2 separate regions of the Homo sapiens genome follow, and region 2 is linked to region 1. The links come from fine-mapping of genetic effects on gene expression. Tissue or cell type: testis. Region 1 holds a variant in brackets; the other region holds the start of a gene. All regions are shown on one strand. Distances are from middle to middle.

The links. PIP is the estimated chance that this variant, and not a neighbour inherited with it, causes the effect.
Region 2: TTC39B starts here. The variant in region 1 is fine-mapped to the expression of TTC39B in testis (GTEx, PIP above 0.99).

Annotation. Positions count from the first base shown.
Region 1 is chr9:15,230,388-15,234,626 of GRCh38, reverse strand. The region is part of intron 2 of TTC39B (tetratricopeptide repeat domain 39B); the gene reads left to right. Among named protein-coding and RNA genes, the nearest start is that of TTC39B, 75 kb to the left of the region's middle. The variant G/C (reference allele first, on the strand shown) is at 1,705.
Region 2 is chr9:15,305,480-15,309,718 of GRCh38, reverse strand. TTC39B (tetratricopeptide repeat domain 39B) reads left to right here and starts at 2,503. Exons shown (of 20, transcript NM_152574.3): 1 at 2,503-2,635. The coding sequence starts at 2,594. RefSeq lists silencers at 2,249-2,588, 2,619-2,938 and enhancers at 2,176-2,738, 3,302-3,865.

The DNA.
Region 1 (4,239 bases):
ACCATCCGATTTCTCAATCTTTTCCCCACCTTTCCCCTCTTTCTATTCCGCAAAACCGCCATTGTCATCATGGCCCGTTCTCAATGAGCTGTTGGGTACACCTCCCAGACGGGGTGGTGGCCAGGCAGAGGGGCTCCTCACTTCCCAGCAGGGGCGGCCGGGCAGAGGCGCCCCTCACCTCCCAGACGGGGCGGCTGGCCGGGCGGGGGGCTGACCCCCCCACCTCCCTCCTGGATGGGGCAGCTGGCCGGGCGGGGGGCTGACCCCCCCACCTCCCTGCCAGATGGGGCGGCTGGCTGGGCGGGGGGCTGACCCCCCGACTTCCCTCCCGGATGGGGCGGCTGGCCTGGCGGGGGCTGACCCCCACCTCCCTCCCGGACGGGGTGGCTGCCGGGCAGAGACGCTCCTCACTTCCCAGACGGGGTGGCTGCCGGATGGAGGGGCTCCTCACTTCTCAGATGGGGCGGCTGCCGGGCAGAGGGACTCCTCACTTCTCAGACGGGGCGGCCGGGCAGAGACACTCCTCACCTCCCAGATGGGGTCGCGGCCGGGCAGAGGCGCTCCTCACATCCCAGACGGGGCGGCGGGTCAGAGGCGCTCCTCACATCCCAGACGGGGCAGCGGGGCAGAGGCGCTCCCCACATCTCAGACGATGGGCGGCGGGGCAGAGACGCTCCTCACTTCCTAGATGGGATGGCGGCGGGGAAGAGGCGCTCCTCACTTCCTAGATGGGATGGCAGCCAGGCAGAGACGCTCCTCACTTTCCAGACTGGGCAGCCAGGCAGAGGGGCTCCTCACATCCCAGAGGATGGGCGGCCAGGCAGAGACGCTCCTCACTTCCCAGACGGGGTGGCGGCCGGGCAGAGGCTGCAATCTCGGCTCTTTGGGAGGCCAAGGCAGGCGGCTGGGAGGTGGATGTTGTAGCGAGCCGAGATCACGCCACTGCACTCCAGCCTGGGCACCATTGAGCACTGAGCGAACGAGACTCCGTCTGCAATCCCGGCACCTCGGGAGGCCGAGGCTGGCGGATCACTGGCGGTTAGGAGCTGGAGACCAGCCCGGCCAACACAGCGAAACCCCGTCTCCACCAAAAAAATACGAAAACCAGTCAGGCGTGGCGGCGTGCGCCTGCAATCGCAGGCACTGGGCAGGCTGAGGCAGGAGAATCAGGCAGGGAGGTTGCAGTGAGCCCAGATGGCAGCAGTACAGTCCAGCTTCGGCTCGGCATCAGAGGGAGACCGTGGAAAGAGAGGGAGAGGGAGACCGTGGGGAGAGAGAGGGAGAGGGAGAGGGAGAGGGCGAGGTTTTCTTCTCCCTTCTCCTTGTCGCCGTGTGTTCCGGTGTCATGGCACCGGCCAGGTGGAAACCACATCTGCGGATCATTGGGAATGTTGGCCATGCTTCTCGAACCAGTTTTCTCTCACGGAGGACCTAGCCGTCGCGTGGGGCTAGAAAAGGTCCTGAAGCAACTGAAGATTTCTCGCCAGGGCTACACCCTGGTGTTATCTGAAGGCTTCTGGACTGACCCCGCCTCCAACTGCCCGGCTGGGTGTCCGCAACAGGATCTACAGCTGTCCTATCGCAAAATTTCCTCTTTCCCTATCCACAAATGCCATGTCTCCTATCCTCTCTGTGTATGCAGTGTTTGAGAATTTTTATAGTTCAGGGAAAGAGTCCCCAGAGTGTTCGAACCGTGCCTGAGCG[G/C]CCGCCGTCGTCTCCCGGCACCACTGGCCCTGCAGCAGCCAGTTGAGAAGGGCGGAGGCTGATTCCAATGAAGTGGCAGAACGTTAGGCGGCCTCTCCAAAAAGCCAGCTACGTCGCCGTTAGCCAAGGTTTGAGGGTCTTCTCCTTCTCTTCGAGGGCCCAACCTCCCCTCCAGATTTAGTACACCAGAGGCGTCGCAGCAACGGCTGCTGCCTGCGCGCCTCAGCTAGGCGGGCTCTGTTTTTGTTTTTTAAAGGATATTAGTCTCTTCCCTCATTTCTTGGATTACTTTCTTGGTTTCATTGTGTTGAGTTTTCAACCTTTTCTTGGATCTCATTGAGCTTGCTTGCAGTCCATACTCTGAATTATTTATCTGCCGTTTCTGAGTTTTTATTTGGTTAAGGTCTGTTGCTAGACAGCTAGTGTGACCCTTTGGTGATGTCACAACATTTAGATTTTTCATGGTGCCAGAATTTTTATGTTGGTTTCTTCTCATCTAGAGAGGCTACTGCTTTTTCTTTTTGAATTTATTTTCATTTAGATGGGCGTCCCCCCCACCTCCCGTTTCCACCTCTTCTAGGGGTGTAACTATAGCGTTAGTATGTTGGGTAGGGTCTTTTGGGTTCGCTTCTAAGGCCCTGCGCGATTCTGTCTGCAGGTTTTATATTGGTCTGTGCAGTTTGACCTGGAGGTCAGTAGGTGGCGCCTATGGGTAAGAGCCATTTGCCGCACAAGCAGATGGGTATATACTTGATTTTTATTTACTGTGATGAGACCTCTGTTGTTTCAGGTGATGAGCTGGACAGAGGAGTGCCTGGTGCCTTGAGGTTCTTGTTCAGGTTGGGGAGGGGGGACATAGCTGGGCAGAACTGGATTCCCTAGCTTGCCCATGAGTATCACAGTGACGAGCTCAAGCTCCAGCCCTGGTGGGGGTGACTCGGGGGAGCTCCTGGTGAGATGTGCCAAGGTCTCTGCAGGATTTGAGAGGGCTCCACTGGCTTGATGGATACCATTTCGACTCTAGATTACAAACATGGTGGCTTCCAGAGCACATCAGTTGGCCTATCTACACTCATTCCTTTTCTCCCCTAAGGAGAGATTTTAACGTTGATGGAAAACCTTGAAGGACATATTTTTATTCATTTTTGAAATTTTATTTTAGTTTTAAATATGGACTAGCTTTTATCTCATTGCGCAGGAACATAACATATTGTGTTGGATTTATTGGGGAAGTTAAATTTGAATTGGCTCTGCTATCTATGATTTGATTGAGAGAAAAAGTATAAACAAAGATAGCTGTAAGCTTTACCCTCGAAAATAGTTGTACCTAGTGATTAAAATTAGAGCAGTATTCAAATGAATAATAAAAAGATAAGTAACTCAATTAAAAATGGGAAAATAATCTGAATAGACATTACTCCAAAGAAGACATACAATTGGCCATTAAGTACTTAAAAAAGATTCTCAACATTATTAGTCATTAAGCAAATGCACACCAAAAACTACAGTGAGATACCACCATATCTCATGGACAAAAACAAGTATTGGCCAAGCTGTTAAGAAATTGGGAATCTAGTACATTATTGGTGGGAATATAAAATCACATAGCTGGCCGGGCATGGTGGCTCATGCTGGTAATCCAAGCACTCTGGGAGGCTGGGGTAGGAGGATTGCTTGAGCCTAGGAGTTCAAGACCAGCCTGGGCAAGATGGCAAGGCACCATTTCTACAAAAAATAAAAATTAAAAAAATCGGAAAAATCACACAGCCACTTTGGAAAACAGTCTAGTAGTTCTTCAAAATGTCAAACATAAAGTTACCACATAATGTAGCAATTCCACATACCATAATTTAGCATTCCATAGCAATGCTAGATATATAATTAAGAGAAATGAAAATACATGTCCACACAATAACTTGTTTGTTTTTTTTTTTTTCTGAGATGGAGTCTCACTCTGTCACCCAGGCTGGAGTGCAGTGGCACAATCTTGGCTCACTGCAACCTCCGCCTCCCGGGTTCAAGCAATTCTCCTGCCTCAGCCTCCCGAGTAGCTGGAATTACGGGTGTGCACCACCATGCCTGGCTAATTTTTGTATTTTTAGTAGAGATGGAGTTTTGCCATGTTGGCCAGGCTGGTCTTGAACTCCTGACCTCAAGTGATCTGCCCTCCTCGGCCTCCCAAAGTCCTGCTGGGATTACAGGAGTGAGCCACCATGCCTTGGCCAAGAACTTGTACATGAATGTTCATAACAGCATTATTCGTAATGGCCACAAAATGCAAATTATTCATATATTATCAACAAATGACTAACAAAATGTGGTATAGCTATACAATGGAATAATATTAGGTAATAAAAAGGAATAAAGTACTGTTACATGATACCACATGAATGAATCTTGAAAACATGCTAACTGAAAAAGCCAAGCATAAAGACCATACTTTTTATGATTCCATTGATATGAAATGTCCAGAATAGGCAAATCTATAGACACAAAAAGTAGATTAGTGGTTGTTTAGGACTAGAGGAGGTGGAG
Region 2 (4,239 bases), 75 kb before region 1:
AGAGTAGAATCTGGACCTGGATAGGAATTCTAGCCTCAGAAAGTGAAACATAGGAGGAGGTAGGAGTGGGTTGGGGGTCTGGGAAGGAATGGAAACTTTCAAGGGTATTGGAATTAAACAAACTCTATGTCTCTTCTGGTCCATCTGATTCTAAGTGTTCAGAGCATGTGTTCTAAATAATAAAAGTATTATTATTATTATTATTTTTGAGACGGAGTTTCACTCTTTTCACCAGGCTGGAGTGCAATGGCACGATCTCGGCTCACGGCAACCTCCGCCTTCAGGGTTCAAGCAATTCTCCTGCTTCAGTCTCCTCAGTAGCTGGGATTACAGGCGCATACCACCATGCCCAGCTGCTTTTTGTATTTTTAGTAGAGACTGGGTTTCACCATGTTGGTAAGGCTGGTCTCGAACTTCTGACCTCGTGATCCGCTCGCCTCGGTCTCCCAAAGTGTTGGGATTACAGGCATGAGCCACTGCACCTGGAGCTTTTTTATTGAGTACCTGCACTGATGAATAAGATAGTGCCTCCTTCTAAGCAATTTACAGATTAGTGGGAACCCAGGAGGCGGAGGTTGCAGTGAGCCAAGATCGAGCCATTGCACTCCAGCCTGGGAGATGAGAGTGAAACTGTCTCTCAAAAAAAAAAAGTATTATTATTTAGAAATTGGGTCTTGCTATGTTGCTCAGGCTAGTCTCGAACTCCTAAACTCAAGTTAGCCTCCTTCCTCAGTCTCCCAGTGCTGTAATCCCATACAGGCGTGAGCCACCACACCTAGCCTGTGTCAGCTAGTTTTTTTAAAACAGCTTTACTAAGATATAATTTACATAATCATAAGTTCCACCTATTGTAAGTACACAATTCAAGGATTTTTAGACAATTCAGAGAGTTGAGCAACCATCACACGATCTAACCCATTTTTTCAATGTTTCTGCTGTAGAAACCATTTTATTATTCTAGTACAAAAGTACATGCCAAGCCATTAAAATTGTACAGCAAGTATTAAGGATGCAAAGTGACTCACTGAAAATGTATGTAATGGACTTGCACAGACAACTGCTCTACTGACACAGAAAGAAAGAGAGGGAGGGTGGCTAGAGCCAGTACAGTACAAAGCAATGGTTATCAGCTAGGCCCTAGAGTTAGACTGCTGGGGTTCAGATGCTGGCATCCCTACTTACTTAACTGCTGTCTGGCCTCAGGCATATTACTTGAACTCTCTGAGCCTCAGTTTACTCATCTGAAAGAGAACAGCACCCTACTTTATGGGGTTATGAAGAATAAATGAAATACTATATGCAAGAGGTTCAGTAGAGTCCTGGCACATAGTAAGGACTCAAGAACTATTAGCTGTTTTTACAGTTATCACTGGATGACTATTAAATAGCCTTTCATGAGCCAGACATGGAAGACCACATGCTCTAATTAAATTTATATGAAATTCTAGAGAAGGCAAATCGATGTTGATAGCAGATCAGTGATTGACAGAGGCTAGGGAGCGGAGGTAGGAAATTGACAGCAAAGGGTCACAGAAAACTTTTCAGGATGTTCTATATTATGACTGGGATGCTTTGTAAACACTTGTCACTGAATCACACATTTAACTTGGTGCATTTTTCTGTATGTAAAGTAAATCTGACCTCTCTCCCCCAAACTCTTAAAGATCTAGCTTTTAATTTTCCAGTTATTTTACATGTCAGAAGCAAGGTTCAGTTTCTAAACTCAGCCAACAAATATCTGTTGAGCACCTACGATGTGCAAGACACTGTTCTGGGTGTTGGGGATACAGTCTTGAAGAGGACAGATAGCATCCTACCCCCATGGAGTTTATAGTTCAAGCACGAATTATACACCTATGTTTGGAGTTACAAAATACAGGATGCTATGGGGAGAATACACTGTCCGGGTAGGGGGAAGTAGAGGAGTTCCAATATGTATAAATCTCTGTCCCGCGTTTTTTTCTATTTTTTGAACACAGAAGCAAGCAGAGTCCTTCCACCTACAGTCCAGGTGGGTGGTGTGTCAGAGGCCTCTCGGGGACCAGTGACCGTGACCCAAGGCTGCCCTCAGGCCACACCATCTGCGAGATGCGGTGGCCACCTGGCGAGGGAAAAGGACTGGCACCGGACCAAAGACCAGGTGGATGCTTCCACGGACCCCAGGTGGGGCGCTGCTTTGACCTTGGCTTCGTCATGCCCGCGCTCTCTAGCTTCTTTCCAGGTGTGCCCAGCCACCGCAGAGAACAGGCGGCAGGAAAGCTTAGGAAACCCTCCCAGAGGGCGTGCCAGACCGGGAAACTTTATCTGGGAGGTGACTCCACCCACTTGGGCGGGGCTGCCGCCCGCTGGGGGCCGGGCAAGTGGCCCGGCCAGCGGCGCGGCGTCCGGGGAGGAAATGGATGCTGTGCTGGCCTGCCGGCTCCGGGGGCGGGGAAATCGAGTAGCTGCACTCAGGCCCCGCCCGAGACCCGGAGGGAGCGCCGGGCCGTCCCCTTTTGCCCTCCTTTGCGCTGGGCTGAGCCCAGAGCCGAGAGCAGGAGTCGGCTCTGAGTTCCCTGCTTGGTTTTTGGGTGGCAGCAGCCAGAGGAGGAATATGGCGCTCTTAGGCAGCCGAGCGGAGCTGGAAGCGGACGAGGTACGATCCGATGGGGATTGCGGGCCCGGCCCCTGAAGCCCTGGACAGGAGTCCGGGAGAGAAGAGTGAGCCCGGCTAGGACGGCCGAGGCCCCGCCCCCTTGGTCCCCTCTCTGGGGTGGGCTGGCGGGCGCCGGGTGGGGGCGCCCGGCCTTGGTAGGTCTGTCCCCGCTGGAGCTAGGAGGGTCCCTGCGGCGCGCGGAGCGGACGCAGTGCCGAGGTTCGGAGCGCCGGCCCCGCGAGTCGTGGGGATGGAGGACCCACGTCCTGCCAGCACTTGGATGGGCGTGAGGGCGCGGGACCATAGGACCCGCAGCTCTGAGCTGTTCCGGGCCGGCCCAGCGACGCCTGGGCTTTACGAAGTCTGACCCTGAAGTCCTGGCACTGGCTCTCTGGGTGTTCGTGGAATCATCCCTCGACCTGGGAATCTCACCTTCTATGGAAGTTTCCTGGTGGCAGAACCGAAAGGCTTACGATTGATGAAAAGAGGGGGCAGCCTGAGGAACAATGAGTAGAGGGGTACCTGCCGCGACAGCAGGGCAGGGCTGCCAGGGGCTGGGGCTGGAGGGCTAGAGCCGCAGCCCAGGCTGTGGTGCTTCCCTCTCCCTCCACGGGGCCGGGACACTTCCCCTAGCAGGTCCTCAGAGTCGGTGGTGGCCGGAGGGAAACCACTTTGAGAACCGACTCCGGCCTCCTTTGGTTTCAACTGTGTTTGAGTAATTAGCCACTCCTTCAGTCGTGGCGCGCCCGGGCCTGAGCACCCAGGGGCTAGCGCGCCGGACCTGTTGATTTATTGACTATTCATTTCAGCACCTGGCAACTCCAGAGACAGCGCTCTCCCTGCTCTTGAAGTTGAGACCGAGGCTCCAGCAGCAGCCAGCACCCACAGCTGCTGTTCCTGCCATCTTACCTGACTTGAATTGTGCGAGTCGCTGCCTTTAGAAGGCTTTGGTTTCAAATGATGCAATAGTGGACGATCTGGAGGAGGCGGTTAAGTTTCCCGTCCATCTCTTTAGTGCCAGGAATCTCCTGACAAGGAAGACTATACTTTAAATGTGCTCCGTAAAATAAACAAAAAACAAAAACTGAACTACAGCTCCTCTGCATGACAGAGAGACAAGAGGGCAAGCCGGGCTGTCCAGACCCTTGCTTACAGCCTGTCCCTTGCATTGAGGATCCCAAGACTGTAGAATGAAATATTTGAATCCCGATCTGTTTGTAGGAGATTTGCTGTGCTTAGAACTATGTAATTCTCTAGATTAGGGCATTGTTGAGGCGGTGCTATTATTAATTAACACTGGGATAATAGGTGTAAACTGGGACTGTTTCGGAGATACTTTGACAAATGGTCACCCCAGCTATGCTCACTGCCTACTAGATGAACGGTTGAGATGCATTAGCCGATGAGGAGGGAAGTTAGGTTTCTGTGGGTGAAACTCTGGGTGGAAGTTAGGTTTCAGAGTAGCAGAGAGCCTGGCACACAGATACTTGGTAAATAAATATTTGTTGAATGAATGAAAGACTGCAGAAAAGATGTTGCTTAATAACAACTCAGTTTTTGCCATATCATTCATTTATTTTTCTTCATTCATTAACTATTAGGCT